3 linked regions of the Homo sapiens genome follow. The protein of the gene in region 2 purifies or fractionates together with the protein of the main gene of each other region. This does not show direct contact. Each region holds a gene or a part of one and is shown on either strand. Other genes may lie near its edges.

What was found.
Region 1: the proteins of PALMD (region 2) and SUCO purify together in Homo sapiens (affinity purification with mass spectrometry, with the first as the bait; one study listed by BioGRID). This does not show direct contact.
Region 3: the proteins of PALMD (region 2) and EIF5B purify together in Homo sapiens (affinity purification with mass spectrometry, with the first as the bait; one study listed by BioGRID). This does not show direct contact.

Annotation. Positions count from the first base shown.
Region 1 is NC_000001.11:172,531,505-172,535,258, forward strand, and holds the start of SUCO (SUN domain-containing ossification factor isoform 1 precursor), read left to right. Parts: upstream 1-1,645; 5' UTR 1,646-1,672; coding exon of another isoform or gene 1,673-1,931; coding exon 1,932-1,993; intron 1,994-3,754. UniProt on the Homo sapiens protein: Required for bone modeling during late embryogenesis. Regulates type I collagen synthesis in osteoblasts during their postnatal maturation.
Region 2 is NC_000001.11:99,662,988-99,666,641, reverse strand, and holds part of PALMD (palmdelphin), read right to left. Parts: intron 1-3,654.
Region 3 is NC_000002.12:99,392,831-99,396,484, forward strand, and holds part of EIF5B (eukaryotic translation initiation factor 5B), read left to right. Parts: intron 1-136; coding exon 137-268; intron 269-1,436; coding exon 1,437-1,568; intron 1,569-1,678; coding exon 1,679-1,755; intron 1,756-1,888; coding exon 1,889-2,053; intron 2,054-3,654. UniProt on the Homo sapiens protein: Plays a role in translation initiation.

The sequences.
Region 1 (3,754 bases), about 73 Mb from region 2:
CTTCCTAGATTTGAGATAAGCACGTATTCTAATATAACTTCTTTGGCTGTGATGCACTGAGGATCAGCTGAGGGATACCTCAGCTGTTTCCTATCCTGAATAAAAGTTCCTGGAGTAAGAGGAAAAGAGTGTCCAACATGGTAAAGAATGTCAATTTATCCCTACCCTTTCATTGCCCCTACTTTCTTTTAAACTTGCATATTAATCATTTGATACTGTTTTTGGGTGAGATAAATACTTGCTTCCCGCAATAGGTGACAGATGAAAGGATTTTATTGTCATATACTAAGAGTGGCATCAGCAGATAAGTGGAACTGTACCTAATTACTGCCAGAAAAGGCAGTTCAGGGTGAACTCCTTTAAAACAAAAATTATCACCCTTTGTATAATTTCTCTAACATCAAATTGACTTATATCCAAGAATCACAGAGCGGATCAAATCATTCAGTTCTTTGGGACTATAATTAACATCCAATTCAACTTAGAAGGTTCATAAGGAAATTCCGCGGCTCAAAATTAGGCGTTAGGTGGGCATTTTACTGAGGGTTTTTTCCCTACGGCCACATGAACAATAAGTAACCCGTCCTTTAAACATTTTTCACACTAAACATTATGCCATGTTCCAAGGCACAGACCATTGCAGCCTCCGTCCCCTCAGCGGCGTAAACACTTGGAATGGGCATGCTGCCCCGTTACTTAGTATTGAGAAGTGGTCACTTTTTGCTCTTCTTAGGTGAGTGTAAGCGACTGCCTTCCCCACTTTAGGTGAACCCCAGGACTTGGAGCGTCTGTGGGTGCTCCTCTAATGGGGACAACTCCTCCCTTCCGACTCCATCGCAGAGAACCCAAAGTTCGAAACCAACAGAACGAAAAGCAACGAAGCACACTTAAAGTGAGGAACCCGGCAAGCGGCGAAATTCTTGCTGAAGAGAAGAAAAAGCGAAAGGTTTTCCGCTGCAACCAATCAGATGAGAGGATTCTTGGCACGCCCCTTTCTATCTACCAATCAACATCTAGCTCAATGGGGCAGTCCATTGCCACAGGGAAAGGGCTTGGTGCAGCTTCCCTCACAACACACACGTCATTCTAGGCCATTCCACGAACTGTGCTCAAAAGAGGAAAACAGTGCAACAGTTCCAAAGCTGATCAGTCTCGTGGTGAGCAGCGAAACTATAGACTTCTCTAACAAAACCATGGATTCTAGGAGGGACTGGGAAAGAGAAAAACGAATTCTGGAAGGCAAACTACAACTCCCAAAGGCCCTTGCGCGGACTCAGCGCGCGAGGGACGAAGGGCGGTCCACTGTAAGGGGAAATGCTGAGGATCACTGGGCTCCTCCCGGCTTTCTGAACGCAAGCCAGCAAGTGGGCGGGACCTGGGGCGGGCGGAGCGGCGAGAGCATCTGCTCCTGCGCTTTGTGGTCTCCTGCCTCCGGCTTCTCCGCCTGCGACGTCGAAGGGGGCGTGGCCTGCGCAGAGGCTGGTGGGGGTGCGGGCGCCGCGGGACTTGGGTGACGCGTCCCTTTCCAGCTCAGCGGTGTGTGAGGTGTCGCGGCCCCGCCGGCGATTGGCTGTTGAGAGGCGAGTACGCGGCGGCCGTTGGTCGCTGGCCTCACGGAGCAAGGCCCCCGGCGGGCGGGGAGGATATGGGGCGGCAGTGGCGGCTGCAGGAGGCGGGCGTGGACGAGCCGGTGGCTGCAGCGGCGGCGGTCCCCGGAGTCCTGTGAAGCGCCCCTGTCCGCGCCTCTGTGGGGCCCTCAGAGAGGGCTGCCAGGACGCGAGCCACTGAGGAGCCGCTCAGCCAGCGCCATAGCCCTTAGGACTATCGGTCACATTCTCGCGCTCCTGCTCCGGCTCCTCCATCTTGGCCTCGGCAGTGGCGGCTGCCGGGAGGATGTGCCGCCTTCTGGCAGGGGGAAGAAGGAGGAGAAGATGAAGAAGCACCGGCGGGCCTTGGCCCTGGTCTCCTGCCTCTTTCTGTGCTCTCTGGTCTGGTGAGTAGCCGCGACGACAAGGGAGTTCCCGTGAGGGGAGTAAATGGGAGGGAGCAGCCCAGGTCACACCCCCTGGTCATTTTGGCTTTTAGGGTCCGGGTTTCCAAGGCCCCCGTGGAAGGGACAAACCGATTACTTCTCGACTCTCCATCTGACTGGTCTGGTAGTGCTCTGTGCGGAGATTTTCATGGTGTATTTTGGAATTTACAGAGACTCAGTGGGAGAGAGAGAGGTGCCAAGGTAGAGGGAACCACCAAGTGCCTTTGTACTCAGTTCCTCTACCCCTTGGAGACGGTGCAGGGTTTGGGGTGGGTGTTCAGATTGATGGTAAGTAAGTTGCTCCGATTTGCCGCCAGTCTTTGCGTTCTTAGTGTGGTAAGGGGATAAAGCACGTCGGATGTGATGCGTTCCGGACGTGCGATTTTAAAACGTGAGTGGTCATGAAGGTAAGAGTAATGTATAAGCAGTAGTTCTCCTGGACATTTCTCGCACAGCGTTTGATCCCAAGTACACTCGGGCCGCTGTTTTTGGAAACTTGGGGGGCGTGTGTGTATGTGTGTTATGAAGCACTTTTTCAATTGGTTTGGTGGAGAGGGTGTCTTAGATGTAGTGTGTGTAGTAGTTTTTGGTAATGCCCCTTAGTGACGGGAAGGTAAATGCTGTATTTTCAAGGCGGGAAGAGTGCTTTGTCCCTAAAGCACTCCTTAAGTTTTACGGAGTTTCTGTTAATCCCAGGCACTTCTGGAGTTTTTTGAGGAGCAGAGAAAGCTTGTAAGTCGAGGGACTGCTGTCACCGTACTTGGAAAAGCCATTCTTTCCTCCCAGGGAATTTCTTCAAAGATGTGTGACAATTGATGACTGAAAAGATGCTTCTTCAGTCTAGGCGATTTGCTGTTTGTTATATTAAAATAGAAATTAAGTTTCCTGTTTTGCTTATTTCTGCAAAGCACCAACACTATTTTCATTTTTATGGATGCCTTATGGATTCCAGAAGCACTGAAATTGTAGAGTTGTTGCTCACATAAAATAATACATAAACAAGGGGAAGAGAAAACACTCGCCTGGCTGAGGGATTTTTATTGGAAGAATGATAGAAGTTTTTGAGAACAAAAACAATTGACTTATTACCTTTCATTCTGAATCCTTTTAATACCCGTCTCCTGTTTTTAATAAAATCCTCCCCTTTCTACTTACTGTGTTGGGTACGGAGAAGTGCCTGTAAGAGATAAATCCACTCACCTCATTTTAAATTTAAATTTGTAGATACTGAAGCTTGTATTCATTTCCATCTCTTTCTGGGGCTGCCTAGTTATATTTGTAGACTGTGTATTTTCTTTCCTCTTTCTTCTTGGTCTTGCCCATCTTTAAACCATGTTATTCATCATCAAAAGTTTCTGAAATGGCTAATAAGGAAAAGGTGAACACTTTCATTCAAGTTTAAAAACACACCAGTATCTCTGGCTTTTTTTAATTTTTTAATTGGATGGTGTAAACGAAATCAAGCAATAGAATGTGATTCTTACAATCATTTGTAAATTTAAGTTAACTCTGCTTCTATTTCTTTTGGGAATTTCTGGCTATCTTTTGATTAAGCTAACCCTCAGTATGTTTTCTCACCTTCAATCATTAGCTCTAGTGAAGAGCTAATGAATTTCCCTGTTAGGGAACAAATCGGTTGGCCTGGTATTGAAAGTAGTAGTAATAAACTTCTGTCAAGTTTTTTAACTCCTAGTGAGGAAAATGGATGTGGAGAGTTTAAGA
Region 2 (3,654 bases):
TTGTTAATTATTCATTGGGGATTCACTATATTTAAAATCTGTGAGGAGAGAATGGGAACTTTATTTTCTGGGACTTCTTTCTCTTATATTGAAATTTAAATGAGAGTAAGTAAGAATAACTTTGTGTGTTTGTGTGTGGGTGTGTTTTTTTAAGGATGCTAGAATAAATACCACTGAGATACAAGTATCTCTGAATTAAGAAAACATTTAAAATTAAGTTTAGTTGTGATAGATAATTGCCAAAGGATGATTATTTTTTACTGATACCACTGAGATACAAGTATCTCTGAATTAAGAAAACATTTAAAATTAAGTTTAGTTGTGATAGATAATTACCAAAGGATGATTATTTTTTACTGAGGCAATGACTTTTAAATCTTTTTTTCTTAAAAAAAAAACCAATATAACATTATAACTTACAACATTACAAACAAATGTTATATGGAACTATAGTTTGGAAAACAGATGAATTCTGGACTGCTCTAATTGAAGAAGTGAAGGGGCCTGAAAGCTTATGGATACACAGAACATGGTTTGAAAACCACTAGATTTAGTAAATAACAGCTTCACCCCAGATCATCACATTTGTACTGGCCTTTTCAGAATCTTAAGCAACTGCATGTGGACGATATACATCACAAGAGCAATTTGTATTACTCCATTCTGTGGCCAGAGATTCTTTACCCCAGTGTTATCTTAACCATTTATTATAGCTGTTTAGCTGTTTGCAAAAATGTTTTCCTGCAGACCCAGTAAATATGATTAACATTGGTCAAGATTCAGCTCCTGGGGTCAAAGATGCTAAGAAACTCTGAATATAGCAGCATTTTAATAATTTACTTTGATTCTAATTTATTTTTATCTAATGGAATTTTAGCTAATGCATAGGAAAGAAGACAGTAACACCTATAGAAGTAAGTTTTACTCCTTACAAACCACCTATAAGGAAAGTTCCAGCCAATGACACACATAGCTATATAAGAAACACTCAGATGGGGTGGTCTTATGAGGCTGAATTATAGAGAGTAGCGAATCATTCTTGTGATGTGATTAGGTTAACTTGGGGCTATATTCTTGGTTTTTAGTCTAGTTAGAAATAATTTTAATTTTAGTCTTGTAAAACTTTGTTCATACTTCATAAATTTTCATTTATGCCTCGTGGAGAACTCTTTGAACTTAAATATAAAATATGCAATTTGGATGTGCAATCAAAATGATATATGATGCAATCACATATATACTGTAGTAATCAAAAGAGTTATTTTGCTTTTATGTCACAGTTTAGACTTGTGCTTTAGTGGATGAGGCTAATGAGTATAATAAAATCTACTTTACAATGAAATTCAGAATTGAAAGCCATATGAACTAAATGAAAATATGTGACATGCAGGTGATAGGTCTTTCTGCAGTTTTTTTAGGAAAAGGTTTTCCTGAGCACTTCTATATCTACCCAGAAGTTACAGTAGAGTAGGAATAAATTGGTTTTTTGTAGATTGAATTGAACGGACTCATGGAAATCAAAAATTTTTCAGATTGACTGTATTTTGTGTTTCCTGGTAACATGAGATTGTGATCATATTACTAGGCAAGAAGATCCATACAGAAAAAAAATCTCTGTATGAGTAGTTTGAATATTAAGATGTAAAAAATGTCCCAGAAATTCCCTTGCTAGCACATTATGAGAATGATCATCAGGTTCAGGAGCTAAAGAATATCAGAGGGAGTTACTACAACTATTTTGAAATGTGTGTATTCTGATGTAGGAGGAACACTTTGTAAATGTTTATGCTTATGTTGTTTAATGTGTGTCACTGAAGTATAGTGAACTAGTTTGCAATCAGGAAAGTGGAGAGGATAGTCATGAAGACTAGGACGAATGGATGAAGAAAATAAGAGACAGGCTATAGAGGCCAACAGAGCTTTTTAATTTGGTGAAGACATTGTAGAATTATTTTAAAAAATACTTTTGCACATTTTGAACCCCATTTTGGAATTATGCCTTGTTGCTGTTTGGTATAGACAACTATTTTTTGCAAAACTTGGAAGAATGTGCTCTACTGAAATAGCCACTCTTTCTTCTCTGTGCCCTGTGCAGTTTATGCCTCCCATACAGTGTTTATCACAGAATAACTGTTATTATGAGTTTATGTATCAGTTACCATCTTAAGGACGCAGGCCAAATTTCACTTGTTTTATATTCTTAGTGTCTAGCTTCATAGCTTGTACATAATATGTACTTAATAAATATTTATTGACTAAAGGCCCTATATACATCCATATAAATTCTACTTACCAGTTAAGACTCAGCTTGAATCCCATACCTTTAATAGTGCCTTCTTGACCATCCCAGATTAAAGAATAATTATACTGTAGTTTAAATTAAAACAACTATCATTTATCTTGTTTATTTAATCTTGAATTTCCCAAATTAGGACAATGTGTCATTTCCCCCAACTCCTAGCCCTGCTCCATGCCACACACACCCCTTTTTTCCAGTGAACAGCTTGGGAAAGTGGATAGCACTTTTGTGCAGAGAAAATTGAAACCTTTTGCTCCAGGTATAAGCATCCCTGAACCAGAGTGCACGACTGGCAAAGGAATGTGGACAAGATTTTAGCACCATCATTTCAGGTACCTTTGTGCAGTACACAATCTGCACAACTGTATATGGCAGTCCAAAACATGATAAATGTTTTGATTGGATTGGATCAGGAGAGGTCTCCTGTGTTCTGGAGAGCAAACCAATAAGGAAGATCATCTACTACTTTCCAGACTGTTTTTGGCAAGTGCTGGAATGAGGTGCTACTTCAGAAATGGACCTTTCAGTGAGTCAGGCTTCTCATGCGAAACTTACTTCTAGAACGAACTAAGGGGATATTTAAATCTTCTCTTCTACTGTGAGCTCCACTGTTTTGTGGCTACCCATTCTGCAAGGATAACAATTGCCCATTCTCAAGGATAGCTAGAGAGCTATCATTTTACTCAGAGGCAGGAAGTAGTTCATTGGGAGATCCAGATTGTGTGTATTGTGTGTGTGATTGTGTGTGTGTAAATTGTGCAAGTGTGTGTGTGTGAGAGAGAGAGAGAGGAAAGGAGAGCAAATGACCTCTGGTTTTGGAGTGAGAAATGGCCTATCTAAAAAACTTTCTAGATTTGACTGTTGACTTCATTTGAATTGCACTGGAACAACTTGGAACTTTTTTTTTTTAAATTTCATTGATTTCCTAGGAGTACACACTACATTTCTTGACTATGTATACTACTCATGTAAATTCAATGTGACATATTGGAAGGGGAGCAGACTAACTGTGCTTTGAAATTATCCATCAAACATCGGAAATGTCAACTTGTTTAGAAGCAAAGAAGCAAACAGAATCCAGAGAATGAGGCTAATTGGAATCTTAAATTATGTTTTTTTTCAGAGGCAGGTACTTGTTCCATTAGAAAAATGAAGTCAGTTGCATTCAGCAAGTTTAACTTAAATTTGTAGACCCCTTGAGTGTGCAGCTTTGTATCATTAAGGGGATTCATTAAATCTATTGATAGCAGCCCTGTCAGATAAGTAGTTTCCTGCTTGGGCCTTTTCACAAGGAGCTGCTGTTTGTTATTTGCTTGCATCCTGTCACTAAGCTAAGTAATAAAATGTTGAAACTC
Region 3 (3,654 bases), on a different chromosome or scaffold from region 2:
CAGTCTTGTGATTATTGCTTTTTGTGCCTCGTTTAAGAAACCTCTCTCTAATATCATGATGAGATTCTCTTATATCATCTTCTACTGCTAACCACTTTTAAAGTACATTTGGTAACAAATGTTTTTATCTCTGTAGAACCAGTATGAAAAGCATAAAGAAGTAGAAGCAGCTCAGGGGGTAAAGATTCTTGGAAAAGACCTGGAGAAAACATTGGCTGGTTTACCCCTCCTTGTGGCTTATAAAGAAGATGAAATCCCTGTTCTTAAAGTAAGTTCATTTAAAAATTTTTTTCCTTAAAAGCTATTTGAGTTCTGGCATGTGTCAGCATTGCACATGCTAGGGATGGTGACCAAAACTGGCTTTGTCTTTGTGAAGCCTGCCATTTCTTGGCCTCTTAGCAAACTTGATGCTTTTGAATTACTTCAGTTTGTACAATCATAGAAATTGGTATAATTTTTATATGTACTAGAATTATAAAAATAATGCATTTTATTCAAATAAAAAAATGAGTCAAAAGCTAGAAGTCGGCTGGGCATGGTGAATGCACACCTGTAGTCCCAGCTACTTGGGAGGCTGAGGCAGGAGAATCACTTGAACCTGGGAGGCAGAGGCTGCAGTGAGCCAAGATCGTGCCACTGCACTCCAACCTGGGTGACAGCAGGACCCTGTCTAAAAAAAAAAAAGCTAGAAATTGTATATTCTTTTTGGCCCATGTCCATTGTAGTTTCATAAAAGTGGACTTTGAGCCATAGTTTGTTCATTTGCCAAAGAGAAAATACAACTGTTCCCAGCACATGGCTCTTGTGTCCTGGGGCCGTGTTTATTATTTAGGCAGCATCAAGTCATGCTGTTGGGAATAAGCTATCTTAGGGCCAGTGAGAGAATAGGGCAGGCCTGTCTCTTCACCCAGTCCTGAGTATGGAGTGGACTTACGTCCCTTCAGTGGCATTGATAAACTTGTTTTACTTATTTCTGGTTAAAAATCTCTTCTTCCATTTCCCGACAAGCAGTGATGGAGGAAGGAGCTGCTGAGATCATGAGATTATGGTATTTCCTAGTTAACACAGACAAGCTGAACTTTTGGGCTATCATAACACATTACGTTTATGTGGTACTTTTTTAACTTTAAAAAAATTTTTCTTCTCTACTGTTTAATTCTGCCCACCCATCTACTGTATTTGCCAAGTGGAGCGGAGATTAAACATATTTCAAAGTTAGTAAACCTAAGACAAAGGTGAAGCGAAATACAGTTAGGGTATGGCCCCGAAATCTCCTCCTTCATTCCAGCACAGGTTCTGTGATGCCTTGCTCTATCTAAGCCTTAGTTTCATATTTGCAGATGAGTACTTAACCAAAGAGAGAAACACAATTTAATTCTAGACTGCTGAGGATAGAGGTGTGTTGACAACCTTATCAAATCTGATTTCTTTTCAAGGATGAATTGATCCATGAGTTAAAGCAGACACTAAATGCTATCAAATTAGAAGAAAAAGGAGTCTATGTCCAGGCATCTACACTGGGTTCTTTGGAAGCTCTACTGGAATTTCTGAAAACATCAGAAGTGCCCGTAAGTAACTACAACTCGCTCCACAAGTGAATGGTGGTTGGTCGTGGTTTTTGGTGCCATCGCCATTACCTGATACATACAGATAAACATGGAAACTCCCATTTTTTCAGTATGCAGGAATTAACATTGGCCCAGTGCATAAAAAAGATGTTATGAAGGCTTCAGTGATGTTGGAACATGACCCTCAGTAAGTAATTTCTCTTGCTATGAAGGCTTTCATGTTACGTAGCTATCTTAAAACTGTCCTATCTTAAAAAACTGTCCTCTGTGACATACTCTGTTTTTCACTGAATGGTCTTTGATGTGTTTTAACCTTTTAGGTATGCAGTAATTTTGGCCTTCGATGTGAGAATTGAACGAGATGCACAAGAAATGGCTGATAGTTTAGGAGTTAGAATTTTTAGTGCAGAAATTATTTATCATTTATTTGATGCCTTTACAAAATATAGACAAGACTACAAGAAACAGAAACAAGAAGAATTTAAGTAAGTTACTGTTTTTATTTACTTTGAGTCTTTGTTAATGAACATGATTGAGAATTACTGAATTCCAGAAAGGGCTGTAAACAGCAAAATCATGGCATTTACTCATCTACCAGAGGCTGCATCCTGAAATGGTGTGTTACAAACCAGAAACCCAACATACTGGGGACATTCCAGCAGTATGCAAACAAGTCTTGTCTGTGACTTCAGTTTAATAATCTTGGCAGACTTGGGTCTTGTTAATGGGTTCGTAGTTATTAAATGTAGGGACTTTATGTTGCTCATCTGGGATTATATAGATTGGAAGTAACAAAACTTGAGTGAGGAAAACCGGGAAATAAGAGATTCTGTGGGAGAGAAGTCCATTCCTCTACCAAACTTTCACTCAAGCACTCACAGTACCTACATTGCTGCAGTGGTAGAGGAGGCATCAGCAGAGAACCAGGCCAGCCTCCCTCCTCCTTTCCCTTTGAGACAGGGTCTCGTTCTGTCACCCATGCTGCAGTACAGTGGCATGATCATGGGTCACCCCAACCTCTGCCTACTGGGCTCAAGTGATCCTCCCACCTTGGCCTCCCGAGTAGTTGAGACTACAGGCTCACACCACTATGCCTGGCTAATTTTTTGTATTTTTGGTAGAGATAGGGTTTCGCCATGTTGGCCAGGCTGGTCTTGAACTCCTGAGCTCAAGTGATCCACCTGCCTCTGCCTCCCAAAGTGCTGGGATTATAGGTGTAAGCCACTGTGCCTGGTCTGGGACATGCTCTTATTGCAGGACAATTGACACATGTTGAGAAGTGCTGAAAAACCAAATAAAGCAGGGAAGGGCCTAGATAAGGAGAGGAGGGACTGTGATTAATGATGTGGTTTGGGAAGGCATCTCACCTCTTCAGACAGAGTAAGCCACACAGGCACATGGGGAGTGTCCAGAGAGAACAGCAGTGCGAGGCAGAGTGACCAGAAGGGACAGTGATAAATGAGGTCAGAGAGGGTGGCAGGACCTGTATCGTCAAGGATCTTACAGGCCATGGGAGGGATTGAGCTTCTCTGAGTTTTGCAAGAAGCCATTGCCAAGGCTGTGTGTTCACAATCAGACTGGTTAATTGGGTTGTTATGTGGACCTTGGGTTGTTAGGAAGTCAGTGGCAAGAGCCTGTCAGGAGGCTCCCACAGTCCAAGCAAGAGGTCTAGGTGATTCAGACCACAGTGATGATAGGAGTGATGGCGTAGTTTGGGATACATTTTTAAGTGGAGCTTACTAGTAAATATTAGGATTTAGACTGGTATATGCTCACTTTAGATCATGAAACCTGAAGTGAGAAGAATTCTACTTAACAAGACTGCTGGAAACTTTTAAAGCATTTTAAGCGTGTGCTCAATAAGCAGGGTAGTTATGTAGTGGCCTTTTGGATCAATGGTTTGGGAACGTGGTGGAGAAAAGGAGGGTGATAATACGGTCTGATGCCTATGTGATCCCCCAGTAGCCTACATATGTGCCTAACGAAGACCTGCCTGTCACCAGGTACTGCCTAGGTTCTAAGCCCCAGACTGTGGCTGACATCTTCAGCAGCCAAGCTCAGTGTTTTAGACTAGGAACAGAATGCT